Homo sapiens: one gene and its partner. The protein of the gene in region 2 purifies or fractionates together with the protein of the main gene of each other region. This does not show direct contact. Each region holds a gene or a part of one and is shown on either strand. Other genes may lie near its edges. The genes, in order: TMEM192 and TMEM106B.

Evidence for each region.
Region 1: the proteins of TMEM106B (region 2) and TMEM192 purify together in Homo sapiens (affinity purification with mass spectrometry; 2 studies listed by BioGRID and IntAct, with this or other methods). This does not show direct contact.

The regions. Positions count from the first base shown.
Region 1 is NC_000004.12:165,102,443-165,110,534, forward strand, and holds part of TMEM192 (transmembrane protein 192), read right to left. Parts: intron 655-8,092; coding exon 508-654; intron 1-507.
Region 2 is NC_000007.14:12,206,516-12,215,049, reverse strand, and holds the start of TMEM106B (transmembrane protein 106B), read right to left. Parts: upstream 3,757-8,534; 5' UTR 3,625-3,756; intron 850-3,624; exon of another isoform or gene 656-849; intron 242-655; 5' UTR 240-241; coding exon 23-239; intron 1-22. UniProt on the Homo sapiens protein: In neurons, involved in the transport of late endosomes/lysosomes. May be involved in dendrite morphogenesis and maintenance by regulating lysosomal trafficking.

The DNA of each region.
Region 1 (8,092 bases), on a different chromosome or scaffold from region 2:
AGGAAAACAGGTCCACAACAGCCCTCTCAACTCCCTTTTAAAAACTGCAGATAGGAACATTCTGTACACAAGGTTGAAAACTTGATTTTTTTTCACTCGACAATGTAATCATGAAGGCTATTCTATGTTAATATACTGTATACCTATCCACCCCATTCTTAACAGTTGCATAGCATTTCCTTATATGAATGGGACACACAGTGTCTTCTGGATGCCAAGTAGCCAGGTAGTTTGTAGTCTCTTGATATGACAGACAACATGGCTATTATCAACAATATCTTTACATGTGTGCAAATATATCCACAATGAATTATTTGAAGATATAAGTAAAAGTGTACGTACTTTTTTTTTTTTTTTTTTGCCCATGACACAGCACTCAGGATGTCCTAAGAACATGTGCCCTACATTTTAAATGTTGATAGATACAGCACAACTGCCCTCTGAAACACTTATATAATTTTTACAAACATCACCTCTGGATAGGTCCCCTTCTTGCAGCCAACTTACATGAATAAACCACAGAAGATTCACTATGATGACTGTAGGAAGAGGATGGAATCGGGGTCTAAAGTGAGCTTGTAATGAGTGGTGTGGGAGAAGCTGGGCATCCAGAAGTGGGTCGTCTTCAATACTCTGGGTGATATCCAAGGAACCCTGGGGTGCAGAAAAACAAGCAACCTATAATCACCACTTTCTAGATTATGTTTCTAAGACAAATCTACTAAACTACAGAGCTTTTTAACCACATACAAATTAAAGGCAAGAGAACACATTGCCTACCTGAATCCAATTTTTTAAAAATTAATTATTAATTTAATTTAATTAATTAAAAAATTAATTAATTTTTTAAAAACTGTAGCAACACGGTCTCACTATGTTGCCCAGGCTGGTCTTGTTTGTTTGTGTTTTGTTTTTTGTTTTTGAGACAGTCTCGCTCTGTTGCCCAGGCTGGAGTGCAGCGGCGCAATCTTGGCTCACTGCAACCTCTGCCTCCCAGGTTCGAGCAATTCTCCTGCCTCAGCCTCCTGAGTAGCTGGGACTACAGGTGTGCACCACCACACCCAGCTAATTTTTTTTTTTTTTTTTTTTGAGATAGAGTTTCACTCTTGTTGCCCAGGCTGGAGTGCACTGGCACAACCTTGGCTCGCCGAAACCTCCACCTCCCGGGTTCCAGCAATTCTCCTGCCTCAGCCTCCTGGGGTAGCTGGGATTACAGGCATGCACCACCACACCCGGCTAATTTTTTATTTTTAATTTTTAGTAGAGATGGGGTTTCTCTATGTTGGTCAGGCTGGTCGCGAACTCCTGACCTCAGGTGATCCGCCTGCCTCGGCCTCCCAAAGTGCTGGGATTACAGGCATGAGCCACCGTGCCCGGCACACATCCAGCTAATTTTTGTATTTTCAGTAGAGGGAGGGTTTCACTGTGTTGGCCATGCTGGTCTCAAACTCCTGACCTCAGGTGATCTACCCACCTCGGCCTCCCAAAGTGGTGGGATTACAGGCATTAGCCACAGTGCCCGGCCCCAGGCTAGTCTTGAACTCTTGGCCGCAAGCTGCAATTCCAGCTACTCGGGAGGCTGAGGCAGGAGAATCACTTGGACCCAGGAGGTGGAGGTTGCAGTGAGCCGAGATTGCGCCACTGCACTCCAGCCTGGGCGACAGAGAGACTTCGTCTCAAAAATATGGATATATACTGCATTGTATATACTTTTAATTTGCTAAGAGTGTAGATCTTAAGTGTTCTCATCACATGTTAAAAAAAAGAAAAAAAGAATATGGTTCATGGGAAGCACATAACAAATCAGCAAATGAAAAGCATAGAAGACAATGCCAAAAAATTTAGGTCAGCTAACTGCACTACAATGAGACAGAAATGAAGGATTCATGAATAGGTTTTGGCTACACAGAATGAGAGCTCTTTATTTTGGAAGTAGGTAGTAGGACAAATGATGTAAGAGATGGCTGTTGATTGCTAAGATTACAAAGATAAGGACAGTAATCTAGGGTGTAACCTAGCTCTGGAGTGGGCTCCTCAATTTCCAGTAGCAGGTATTCAACACTGCTCTGCAACTGTTTTTGTTGTTTTGTTTGTTTGTTTGTTTTTGAGATGGAATCTCGCTCTGTCGCCGAGGCTGGAGTGCAGTGGCTCAATCTCGGCTCATTGCAACTTCTGCCCCCTGGGTTCAATCGATTCTCCTGTCTCAGCCTCCTGAGTAGCTAGGATTAAAGGCACGCGCCACTATGCCCGGCTAATTTTTGTATTTTTAGTAGAGATGGGGTTTCGCCATGTTAGCCAAACTGGTCTCAAACTCCCAACCCCAGGTGATCCGCCTGCCTCAGCCTCCCAAAGTGCTGGGATTACAGGCATGAGCCACCGCGCCTGGCCAAGTCTTTTATTCAATGCCTAGATTGCTTCCTGTTTAGTTTACCATAACTCATGGTACAATTCAGATTACTCCTGTTCTCTTCAAGACCCCTCTGCCTCTAGCTCATTCTCAGTCAGCAGATGTTGGAGCCTTGAGATCTGCTCTTCCCTTAGCTAATGTCTGTGCATTCTTTCATGCTCAGAAGGGGCAATTCCCACCACAGGGCCTTTCTGGATACCCCTAATCTGGATTGTGCCACCCTCCATGTTTTTCAAAGCATTCTGTGCTTGCCTCTTCTATCAAACTATCCTGTGATGGTCTCTTACTTATCTCTTCTCCACTAGACGTCATTGGACCCATTACCTTTACACCTCTTGTCTTTGTAATCCCAGCACTCAACACTATCTCATGGTTGTCACTCAGCAAACATTTGCTAGATGAATGAATGAGTGCCCCAAACCTGTTTCTGCAGTATTTTCTAATTCAATTATGGGCATCATCAAAGACCTGGGCTAATTAGAAGAGATTATCAGGACATACGGGGGATCAACTGTGACCAAAGGCAGTAAGAGCTGTGGTTAAGGTCAGGCTCCTAAGGGCAAACTGCCTGGATTCAAGCACAAGTTTTACCGCTTTCTAGCTGAGAGCAAGTTACTTCATCTCTCATGCCTCAGTTTCCACATCTAAAAAGGAGACTAATAATAGCACCTGCTTCGTAGCTCTGTCAGGAATACTAAATGAGTCACTACACATGCAAGTCCTCATGACACTGCCTGACGCACAGAGAGCACTCAATAAGTATTAGCCACTATTATTTCTTTATTAACTCTTTTCTCTTTTTAATATTTTTTAAATTTTAAAATAAAAATCAACAGGGTCTCGCTATGTTGGCCAGGTTGGTCTTGAACTCTTAGCCTCAAGCAATCCTCCCAAGTGCACTCCCAGTGTGCTAGGATTACAGGTGTGAGCCACCACACTTGGCCTTTTTATTAACTCTTACTTTTGACTTGCACCCCGCTATGGTCTAAATGTTGGTGTCCCCCAATAGTTCCCTGCTTTCCTTTGGGAAGTAATTAAGCCATGAGGGTTCCCCCCCTCATAAATGAGATCAGTGCCCTTATAAAAGAGGCTTGAATGAGCTCCCTTCCACCTTCCACTGCGTGAGGATGCAGCAAGAAGGCGCCATCTTTGAAGCAGAGAGCAACCCCTCCCCAGGGCTCTTGGCACCTTGATCTTGGGCTTCCTGAATCCGTGGCTGCCTTAATCTTGGACTTCCTGTCCTCTAGAACTGTGGTCAATACATTTCTATTTGTAAATTACCCTATTTGTATTTTACTATAGCAACCCAAACAAAGACACTACCCCTATAATCATTACCATTCTATCCACTCAGTGCTGGGGCATGATAAAAAGAGAAAAAATCATTACCATTCTAACTCCTAAACCTGTTATTTCCTCTCTATTCTCACTATCTTAGTCCAGGCCCTCCCATTTCTCATGGCCTTTTATTAGAAGCTTCCAGTCTTCTGGTCTTGGCAATCTCTTTCACTGCTCCAAGACAAACATTCGTGTTTCTCTCCTCAAAAACTTTGGGTAGCTCCCTATGATGGTCAATATTAAGTGTCAAATGGATGGCAAAGTATCGTCTGTGAGGAGCCAAACATTTGAGTCAGTGGACTGGGAGAGGAAGACCCACCCTCAATATGGGCAAGCACCATCCAATCAGCTGCCAATGCAGCTAGAACAAAGCACAGAATAGGCGTATAAGCAGCTTGCTGAGTTTTCTGGCTCTCTCTTTCCTGCGTCAGATGCTTGCCTCCTTAATTCCTGCCTTTGGACATCAGACTCCAGATTCTTCGGCCTTTGGACTCTGAAACCTGCACCAGCAGCTTGCCTGGGGCTCTCAGGCCTTCGGCTGCCGACTGAAGGCTGCGCTGTTGGCTTCCCTGGTTTTGAGGCTTTTGAACTTGGACTGAGCCACTACCACCTTCCCTTTCCCCAGCTTGCAGGTGGCCTATCATGGGACTTCACTGTGTAATCTTGTGAGCTAATTCTCCCTAATAAACCCCCTTTTTATATATACATATATCCTATTGGTTCTGTCCCTCTGGATAATCCTAATACGATCCCCAAATCCTCAGGACAAAGTCCAAATTCTTAGTCTATCGCTTTACAATCTGTCCCCAAGTAACTTCTCAGGATTTTTTTTCTCTCTTTTTTTTTTCTTTTTTTGAGACAGAGTCTTGCTCTGTCCCCCAGGCTGGAGTGCAATGGCATGATCTCAGCTCACTGCAACCTCTGCTTCCTGGGTTCAAACAATTCTCCTGCCTCAGCCTCCCAAGTAGCTGGAATTACAAGTGCCCGACACCTTGTCCAGCTAGTTTTTGTATTTTTAATAGAGACGGGGTTTCACCATGTTGGCCATGCTGGTCTCAAACTCCTGACCTCAAGTGGTCCACCCTCAGCCTCCCAAAGTGCTGGGATTACAGGTGTGAACCACTGTACCCAACCTTTTTTTTTAAAACAAAAACAAAAACAAAAAAAAAAACAGGGTCTCACTCTGTCACCCAGGCTGGAGAACAGTGGCACGATCTCGGCTCACTGCAGCCTCCGTGCCCCCCTCCCCAGGCTCAAGAAATCCTCCTACCTCAGTCTCACGAGTAGCTGGGACCAGAGGCACACTCCACTATGCTTGGCTAATTTTTGTATTTTTAGTAAAGGTGAGATTTCACCATGTTGCCCAGGCTGGTCTTGAACTCCAAAACTCAAGCAATCCACCCACCTTGGCCTCCCAAAGTGCTGGGATTACAGGCATAAGCCACCACGCCTGGCCAAGGATTTGCCTCTCACCATTTCCCTCCCTCCTGGTGCCGTCTGCTTATGATACCCGTCTTTCATGAAACACTTTCCATCTCTACACCAGCTCTACTTATTCTTCCCCACCTGTCAAATGCTTGTCCCAGCAAAACCGCCTTCTCTGCGGTGCCTTTTTAGCATTCCCAGCCCCAGCATCATTCCTACTGCACTCTTAATCTGACATTGTAGTTTTCATCTGTACAAGTTTGAGCTGGGTCTACTTTGTATCTTCCATGTCTCTATGTAACTTCTAAATATATAGAAGACATTTATAATAATGTTTAATGTTCACATGCTATTTCTAGCCTATGTCATGTCTGAATCAGTTTCAGTGGACTCAGTACAGCTCACATTTTCCTGCCTCTTAGCATGCCTTGTCATTTTTTATTGGATGCCAGATATTGCAAATTTTACCTCTGTGGGTGCTGGGTATTTTCTGTATTCCCTTTTTTTTTTTTTTTTTTTTTTTTTTTGGAGATGTAGTCTTGCTCTGTCACCCAGGTTGGAGTGCAGTGGCATGATCTCGGCTCACTGCAAGCTCTGCCTCCTGCGTTCACACCATTCTCCTGCCTCAGCCTCCCAAGTAGCTGGGATACAGGCACCCAGCACCACGCCCGGCTAATTTTTTGTACTTTTAGTAGAGACAGGGTTCCACCATGTTAACCAGGATGGTCTCGATCTCCTGACCTCGTGATCCGCTCGCCTCAGCCTCTCAAAGTGCCGGGATTACAGGCATGAGCCACCGCACCCGGCCATTTTCTGTAATCCTATATTCGTGAACTTTGTTCTGGAGTGCAGTCAAGTTACTTGGAAACAGTCTTGCTGTTAAGAAATTAGGTGGGCTTCATCTAAGGCTAATCTAAGGCCTCCACTACTGAGGCAAGACCTTTCTGAGTACTCTACCTACATGCTCTGTGAATTATGAGGGTTCCGTCTGGCTTGTGGGTGAAATAGGCAGTATTCTTGGCCCTGTATGGAGAAACTGTTCCTTCCAATCCTTTTAGGTGGTTCTTTATGAGGCCTCCAAGAGCTTCCTCATGCCCTGATTAGCACTCTACTGGATGCCTGGTAGGCGCAGGGCCAGGGGGCTCCCCGTGCATATCTTCAGAGTTCTCCCTCTTTGTAGCTCTCTCCTCTCTGGGTGCTCTGTCTTGTGAACTCCAGTTACCTCGATCTCCTAGACCCTCAACTCCATCTCCTCAACTCAGAAGTCTGCTGGGCTCTGCCTGGCTTCCCCCTTCCCTGTCACAGCCTGCACACTCTTTCAAGGCAGTAAGCCGGAGCAGTGATAGGGTTCACAGCATTTGTTTCCCATCTCTGAGATTGCTACCCTTCATTGTCTGATGTCCGGTATCTCACAAAGTGTTGTATCATACGTTATATCTAGCTTTTTGGTTGTTTCAGGCAGAATGGTATATCTATTCCCAGTTACTCCATGTTGGCTGGGAATGGAAGTCCCTACTGAACTCTCTTACATCTGTATCTGTATCATAACCTACCATACTAAGCACATGGCATTGAAATTGTCAGAATAAAATGTGCTTTACAAGGGCAGAGACTCTTTTATATTATGTCCTTTGTGCTTTTAACACTTGATACACAGCAGATGCTAAGGTGTTCAATATGCGTGTTGAGAGAAAGAAAGACTGCTCAACTTCTTGTATGCTTCAGACCTGGGAAATTTTTATTTATTTATTTATTTATTTACTTTTGAGACAGAATTTCGCTCTTGTTGCCCAGATTGGAGTGCAATGGTGTGATCTTGGCTCACTGCAACCTCTGCCTCCCAGGTTCAAGCAATTCTCCTGCCTCAGCCTCCTGACCACAGGCTGGGATTACAGGCATGTGCCACCATGCCCAGGTAATTTTTATATTTTTAGTAGATACCGGGTTTCGCCATGTTGGCCAGGCTGGTCTCAAACTTCTGACCTCAGGTGATCCACCCGCCTCAGCCTCCCAAAGTGCTGGGATTACAGGCGTGAGCCACCGCACCTGGCCAGACCTGGGACATTTAAACAAAGCTAGCATTGAAAACTTCACTATAAGACAATAATCTACTTTATCTCCTAATATGTCACTTTCATGCACCTTCTTCTCTCGCCTAAATGAGCTTTCTATAGAGCCCTACAAATATCCTCCCTTACCTTTTTCAGAATTCTATGCATCTTTCAAGGTCCTAACCAAGTTTATGTTCTCTATAAAACTGGCCTTGTTAAGTGTTTTCCTTCTGCTTTAAAATCCTATAAAACTTATTGCCCATAATATTCATTTGGAATATTTCTTATGCTGCCTTGTATTGTTTTCCTTTTCATGGGTGTATCTTTTGTTTTTCCTAACTACACTGAAGGAGTTGGGGACTATAATATGGTTCTTCTCTATGTCACTCAGGAGTATTTACTTTCCATTGAATCCTATAGGAAATATGCAGTGTAACCATACAAACAGCACCCAGTCATTCTATTAACTCACCATCTGCAAGTGAAGGGTGAGGGGAAGAGGACTCCTGAATCCAAATGATTTTTTCATTTCCATTATTAACTACATTACCACCTGTAGAAGATGTCTGTTGTTTTTGCCCACATGGTATCTCTTCTCTCTTCTGTGACAATAACTCTATTTCCTTTGAGGACCCACTGTCTACTTCTGCATTAAGTCTTAGTGGAACCATCCTTCAATACCCTTCCTCCTCCTCTGCTCTAGGAGTGGTCATGGAACAAAAAACAGTTGGGTGAATCCAACTCTTTCCATGAGCAGTAAAAGAAAGATCATGAGGCCGGGCACGGTGGCTCACGCCTGTAATCCCAACACTTTGGGAGGCCAAGGCAGATGGATCACCTGAGACCAGCCTGACCAAAATGGAGAAATCCC
Region 2 (8,534 bases):
AAAACAATACAATAACACATACCCCTAGGAATTCTTCCTGTTCCCTGACAAGTAGGGCAGGTGACACTATCTCTTCCTGTAAATTCCACATATGGAAACTGAGAGACATCTCCATTTCTTCCATCTTCATTATGGACTTCACTATTAACCAGTCCATTCCTCATGTTTTCAGATGTGACTCCATCATAAGCATCTTCTTTGCTTGAATGCAAAGGCAAATGAGAAAGAGACTTTCCCATGTCTAAAGAAAAATAAAAATCTTACAGTAAACTTCAGGGAAAAAAGTACATTCAAGAACACTCTGAGATATTTACACTAATTAATTTAGAACAGTCAAGGAACAGTCAAACTCTGTAAAATATTTGAAGGGATTTATTCGGAGCCAAAAATGAGTGAACAAGGCCTGAGGCACAGTCTCAACAGGTCCTGAGAAAATGTCCTCAAGGTAGTTGGGTTACAGCTTGATTATACATTTTGGAGACAGAAATTACAGGCAGAGGCATAAATCAATAGATGTAAGGTATACATTAATTCAGCCCAGAAAAGCAGGACATTTTGAAGCAGGGGTGGAAGGCTGGGGGGTGTCCAGGTCATAGGTGCATAGGTGGATTTAAAGATTTCCTAATGGCAATTGGTTGAAACGGTTAAACTCTACCTGAGGAGTTGAAGTCAGCAGAAAGAAATGTTTGTAGTTAAGACAAGGGAGGAGGATGTGGAAGCCAAGGTTCTGATTATCTAGATGATGCCTCCAGGTAGCAGGCTTCAGAGAGAATAGTTTGTAAATGTCTCTTATTACTCCTTAAAATATTCCAGGCTCTTGGTTAAATCGCTGCTGAATTAGGAAAAGATCTGGAAAGGAAAGGGGATTCTGTACAGAATGTGGATCTTCCCCACGAGAGACAGCTTTGCAAGGCCATTTCAAAGAAATATATTTTGGGGTAAGATATTTCAATTTCTCTCAGGGCCTGCTATCTGTCGAGTGATTCTATATTAGAGTCAGGTTGGGATTTGATATCTTATTGCTACAAAGAGACTCTTGTTAGTCTTCAAATCTCTGTTTTAATTGATGCTGGTCAGTTGTGCCTGAATTCCAAAGAGAGGAAGGTACAACGGGGCATGTTCAATCCCCTCCACCCACCTTTTCATCATGGCCTGAACTACCTTTTTAGGTTTACTTTGGAATGCCCTTGACAGAGAAGCGGGTTCCACTTAGTTGGGGGGCTCAGAATTTTATTTTTGGTTTACAGAACAAACATTAAGAGAATGTTCAAACTACCTTTTGGATTATACCTTTTGGATTAGGATTATATCCAATCAAAATAATGTCTGAAACAAAGGAGCCATTTACTAGAGTCCAGAAGTGTTTTTTTAAACAAATAATGTGAAATGATGTCCTATCATGCTTATGATGAGAATGGGCTTTCAAACATTAACATTTGACAAAAGTCTACACCTGCAGGTTCTCTGAAAAGAAACATGCAGGTTTCATTTTTCTTAAAATAAAATAAAAATACATTCTACCTTTTAACTAGTTAGCACTAAAGGCAAAAATTGCTTTGGGTAGACGATAACTAGGTATTTGATGTATATCACCAAGTAACTTCAAAGTAGTACGTTTCAGCCTCTGAAAATTCACGCACCTTTGTGATAAATACAATCACCACTCTTTTCCATCCTTAAATTTCTTGCTTTAAACATTTAAACACTCGCAACAACAATAAAAAGCCCCAAAATTCCAAAATCACAGTTTTTTTTTCATTCAACAGTTGACAGTTAAAATTATGAAGCCAATGTTCCAAAATATTAAATATAAGTTACCAATACAAAGCAGCAAAATTTAGAACACTAACTTCAAAAATTTTAGGATAAGAGTATCAAAATAACAATACAAATGTAAAAATCTAAGTAGAAATAAATAATTAGTACTAGTGCCTACACAAAAATAACTTCTGCAGGTAGATAATGAAGTAACTTTATACTTAAGGTCATACCCTTTTAAAGCTGAAAAGAACTTAACAGTCATATAATACACCCTGCTGGTATTTTCCTGCTTATATCCTGAGAAAAAATAAAGTGAAAAAGTAAAACTGAAAAATAACATAATTATACTCCTTCTAAATTTGATATGTCTTTTAGCGGTTCCTAAAAATAGATTACATACATTCAGACAGATAGTATTTCTTTCAAAAATTCTCACTTATTTGATTAAACAAAACAGACATTCCAAGTAAGTCAGTTCATCCTAGAGTATGAAGAAAATTTTACTTTCTAGAACTGGCATGCCTGATAGGAGCCTGCTTGGTGGGTACAATGTGTGTTGCTCCAGTGCTGGATGCACTAAGGGCTCTGACTTCACCAGGATGTTGTGTATCAATGTAGCAAATGGCACTTGTACTCCATGAATATACACAAAATAAATACAAAGATAAAAAAATAAATAAAATTCGCATGCCATCCACTTGTTGCTGTCACTCAAATAAACAGAATTTAAAAAACTATACAAATGGTATGCAAACAAATGTAAAATGAGATTTTCACTCTTTCAAAAAAAAAAAACTATGTATTTATAAAAATCACTGCCCACATCAAAAATACAAATGATTTATGACTTCTAAAAAATCATTGTCTTAATCAACACCTGTCAGCCACAGGTAGGATAGGGAAGACTTAACATCACTGTCCCCACACACTGTAACCTTGGGGTCTATGCGGAACACTAGATGAATTGGGATCATTGGGCCTTATCAGCAAGGCCTTAAGGGCACTCTTTCTGGGATCTCAGTCAACACAGCCAGGCTGTAAGCTGCATCTTAACTGGAGCGCGTTGAGAAAAAAGACACAGAAAGGCAGACTCAAGTGGCTCTCCGTTTGAGCCTGTTTTCTGTCCTAATCTAATAGCTGCCATGATCGATTCTGCTTTAGGGTAGGTGTTTGGACAAGTGCCAGACTCTGTGAGAAACTGGGAATCCCTTGCCTTCTCTACTAGATTTTCCTTAGAGAACTGACAAGTGTAACCACTTTTATTCTTGGGAGACTCAATGGTTTAAAAAAGGGGTGCTAGACCCTCTTCTGCAACCTCTGTGGGCTCAGTGTTATTTATTATAGCGGTTCCTTAGTTTACTGAAAGTCAACATGGATATCAGACTCAGTTTGGAGAGAAAAAATATATCACAGCACTCCAATTTAAATGGCTCCTGATCTTCTGTGTAGACACTGGTTTTAGTTCTAAAAGGGCTTGAGAACTAAGGAAACAAGCGCCTTTGAAAAGCTCCATAAACAACACCTAGCACAAAGCCTACTCTGTAAAGCTGCAAAATAAGATCCCGGCACCACGGCAAGAACATTCATCAACAGCAAAAGGAAGAGGGCCACCTGGCGCTCAAGGTGTGAGGGCCTAGAGGCAACCCAGAGGTAGGGCTTGGGCCGAAGCCGAGTGTTCCCTGGCTGGGCCTCATTAGAGGCGACACAGCAACTCGATCACCAGCCCTGACCGCCGCCGTACCTGCGGCTGGCCCAGCACCCCAGCGGCCTCCCCTCCTTGTCAGGCCCGGCTCAAGCCGCGGCGCAGCCGCTCAGCCTCGCTCCGGAAGGGGACCTGGGGACTGCACGTCCGGGGTCGCTCACCGGCACGCGGGGCGCTGCGCAGTCCCGGGCTGCTTCGGCGCGGACAGGGCCGAGGACAGGGTCGTGGAGTCCACAGTCCCGGGAGCCGGGGGGTGGAGCGACCGGCCTGGAGCGCGCGGCCGCCGTAGAGCTGGGACGGGGGAGGGGTAGGATAACGACGGCATCAGCAGAGGCCAAGCGCTGCTGTAACCTGCGTCCGCGCCTGCGCAGAGCGCTCCCGGAGGGACACCCCTGGCGTGCGCGTGACGCATGCGTCCTTCTTCCTCCTGTTTGAGCCCAGAGGCGTCGATCGTGTGAGATTGTGCGCTCTTCAGGTTTCATTACCTTCGCGTCCCCCAGACTTCAAAGTGTCCACTGTAGCCACGAATTACCTAGGAACAGTCGCTCCTCCTATTTCCCATATCAGACCATTTCCTTTTGCAAAGGGTATAAATGTGCACCATCTGCCTCAGCTTTCAGCTGAGCAGCCTCCTCGCTCACGCAATGCGAGTTGTCGCTGACAGTCTGGTCCTTAGGAATGGAATAAACTGGTCCGTACACACGCCGCTGACAGCAGCAAAGCTACCTCTATTTTAATTTAGAAACTGGCCAACTAGAAGGAGACAGCAAGCGGCAAGGCCGTAGTTTTTGTTTTTGCTCGGTTTCGTTTCGCTTTGCCCACGCTGCCCCTCCCCACCCCTTAACTCTGGTGCTAGTTACAGGTGTGTGAAATCCCGTCTCGGATCCCAGTACTTAAGCTCTTCGCTGTGGGTTGGGGCTGCCCTCCCCCAACGTCTAGGTCATTTCACTTAGAAGATAAGAACAACGACAAGGAGTCGTTTTGAGGGATCAATGAGATGCCGGTAATAATATTAAGGGCACTCTAGTCTCATTCCTGCGGAGAGTTTAACGTTTAATGAATGGTAGGCATTCTTACAGTCACAGGAGCAAGGAAGTGAGAGTCATATATTTCTCTCTTCTAACAGGATCAGTGTGATCCTGTTAGAATCAGGGAATTCTAACAGGAATTGGGAAATGAAGCTATGTAAAAGTAGGAAATACAAGTCAGAACGATATACAATTTAAGAGGATTACTGTAGATCCATATGTGAGATAATGAGCTTTCTCATACAATGTTGTCGGAGATTTAAAACTCCTAAGTTTTCTGGCAGACAGTCAGTATGTATCAAGACTATTAAAATGTTCACATCGTTTGGTCCAGCAATTCCACCCTTTCAGAAGTATCCTAAACCTAATGAGAACTCTAAAAAGATTTGGGTATGAGGTGTATCCATTTAAATAAACTGAATGTCCAACAAGGGACATTGATAAAATCATTATTTTTCAACCGCTTTTATTTAGCCCATATTTTCCAAAGGGAAGGGTCAGGGTGTCTTCCATTAACACTGTTTGAAATTTCAAAATTAATAGGTTGGTTAAAACAAATCAGAATCATGGGGGAAAATTTTTCTCAAAATTATTGACAGTCCACCTGTGGAGATATGATGTTCCCCTTGGAATTACTGAGTTTTTAAAATTATGGAATAGCCATCTATTGAGTTTTTATAAAGCCAGTAAAAACCATCTTATAAGGCTGTTATACGCGGAGTGATATAAAATTAAAATCAGGATGCAAAGTATAGGATATGAGGTATTGTAATAGGATGTAAACTATATTCACATATAGATAACATATAGATATAAATATATTACATATCTGCCTTGAAATGGAAAGAAATATACAAAATATAAACAGTTGCCTGTAGTTTGAGAGCATGGATGTTTTTTCTTTATTATTGTTAAATAGGCAAATGGTTCTATAATGTAATATATATTATTCTTAAGTGAAAAAGTTACTTTTTTCTTTAATTCTTAAGGGAGTATTTAGTATTTTCTCAACCTCATCATTTAACTTAAAACGTGCTGGCCATATAGCACAGTTCCTTATCCAAATTCCTGGAATTCACATAGGAATAAGTCTTCCTGGGAGAATGTTGCTGTAAGAAGCAGTTCAGTAGCAGGGTTGGGAACACAGCCTTGGGAGCCATATGGCCTGAAAATGAGCCCAGCCTGACAGAGATATACAAAATCTCTGTAAGAGTGGGCAAAATACTTAGCCTTCTTTATACCTAATTTTTATTATCTGCAAAATGAAGATAGTAATAATGTCTGTCTCAAAGGGTTATGGATGGGAGCTGATACCTGCAGAGCAATCAGTAAATATTAGATATTATGATTACAAATTTATCATCCATATAACAAGGAAGTACTTTAAAGACAGATATTGAATGTTTGGTACATTTGTTCCTATGCCTTATTTTTCATTGAAGCACATTTTGAAAGGAAAATTTTCTGAAAAGCTTCCAATTATTTGATTAACAGTGATTTCTTGAGTTCCGAGTTCAGTAGTGGTCTAGGTGCTATCAGATATAAAGGCCAGTAATTTTAACAGTCTGGGATAAGTTTGAATAGAAGAACATTCTTTCTTAATGATTTCTGGTTATATTTAGTATGATGCTGAAGCTAAGGGATTTCTCTAGGTTGTACTAAATCTTGAAAACAGCCTTATCTCTCATTTCAATTCTCTTTTATCTCTTTTAATGGTAAATCACCCAAATCCTAATAGCAGTCAGCCATAACTAAAAATTTTGCAAAAATTACTTTTCTAGAAATTAGCTGTTAAAAATTATAAGCAGAAAAGGAACATAATTATTTTGAAACATATAATTTGTCAAATGTTAATATATAAGTCTCTCTCAGCTCACCCCCTTCCACTGATATGCTGGTCAGATTATGTTAGAAACCTGGATAGGTTACATTGGAAACCAGGGATTGAAAAGATTGAAGTTTGTCTGGCTGATTTTCAGAGATAGTGCCCCAGATACATAGCAAAACTACCATTAGCAAAACTACCATTTCCCGCTGTGCCACCTGACTTACATTCACAGGCAGTAAACTCCTGACTCTATTGACACATCTTTGTCATTCCAATTATTTTAAAAGCAGAGGTCTTTATTAATTTCTGCAAATAACTTACCTATCTGAAACTCTTGGTTATGTCTCTGTACTCCTTCTTAGGCAGGATCTTCTATATTTCCTCTGTCTCATTCATCTTGCTTCACACCTGCATGGAGCTAATCTTTCCCATGTGTTAAAACTTTCTTTCCCAAATATTCAAGTCATCTTTTGTAGGGTTTTTGTCATAATCATAATTTCTAGTAAGAATAATTTTAGGAGTTCAATAACACTTGGCCAATGAATGAATTTGTTGTGCCAGGCATTGTGTAAAGTAGTTTATATCATCTAATTTTTATAGAAATGCTATGGATTAGGTTCTGTTATTATCCCATATCTTATTTCAAACAGTGGAAATAGAGGATCCTAGGTATTATGACTTGCACATGACCACACAGCTAGCAACTAGAACTCGGATATTTTGACTGCAAAGCTACAGCTATTAACCACTGTGGCATGAATATCTGTATTAAATTTGGAAGAGTGAATTCTGTCCTCAACTTTTACTACACAAAGATAAGTGATGACGGTGAGTAAAGTTAACTGGTTAGGGGGGGAAAAGAGGGTATTTTCACTCTTTTGCTAAGTGATCATCACTGCTGCTGAAAAGAGGAGAATTGGGTCCAGAAATCCTTGAGGAGGTGTTCCGAATATAAAATAAGGAAAACACAGAGTCCAATTAGGATTTATGTTATAAAAGACTGTTTCTTCACAACAAACACAAGCTAGAGAAGGTTTTTTTTTTTTTAAACATTTTTAAAAAACTTATCAAAGAAATGAGGACGCAAATTTAAGTACACTTAAATCCAAAAGATAAGGAGAGCTTCCTAAGAGAGAATAGAATTAGAGTTGCTTTAATCACCTACAAAACAGTGGGAGAAGGAGGAATGCACCATAAACAGGGCCGAAGGGAGACCTGCCGAATGACACCCCTGTGTGTGGACCAGGATGATAGATTACAATCTCATGTCGTTCCAGTGATAGAACGAGTGTGCACTCACTCTCCAATTCTCTCCTAAAGGTCTTCATTAAGTGCTCAAATGTCATATGTTAAAGGCATGGGGTAGGGCATGAATGCTGAAGAAATTTCTTTGCAGATTCTAGGCCTTTAACCAGTGTACTGCAGCAGCTCTGTGAAGGCTGGAGGCAGGGTGGCAGGCTGCCCAGGATTCTCCTGAGGCACAGAAATGACCGGCAAGACTGGAGAGTAAACAGAACAACCTGTGGAGATATTGGAAGCTAGGTGTTTGAGCTAAGAAAGTATTGAATAGTTTGGTGGAATGAGCTAGTAGGTGCACATTAATCTTGAGATTTTGCCAGTGCCAAGAACTCAAGCATATTTGAAAGCAATAGTAAATAAACTGAATCAAAACTTCAACAAAACCCAGAATGTGGGTTTTTGACTCACTGTTGAAAGATTTGATTCAGCCTTCCAAACAATAATCTTGATAGAAAAAATGGCAAGATGTTTTTTGAGGTACATGTTATTTACTGTTTTCTTTTATACAATATCTAGCATATAATAAAGATTATGAGACATGAAGGAGCAAGAAAATGTGAGCCATGGTCAAGAGAGAAAATGATTAATAGGGGAAAATACAGAAATGGCCCAGATTTGGTATTATCTGGCAGAGACTTTAAAATCACTTTGATAGATATGTTAAAGCATCTGTATAAAAAATGGAAAACATGCATGAACAGACAGGGAATTTTAGCAAAAAGATGGGAACTATTTATAAAAAGCAAGTTGAAATATTAGAAATAAATATTAGAAGTAAAAAGTTCACTTTTTAGCATTATCACCAAATTGGACATAACAGAGGGAAAAAAACCTGTAAACTTGAGACGGTCAGTAGAAATTATATAAACTGAATATAAAGAGCAAAATCAAGGACAAATGGAAGGGAGCATCTGAT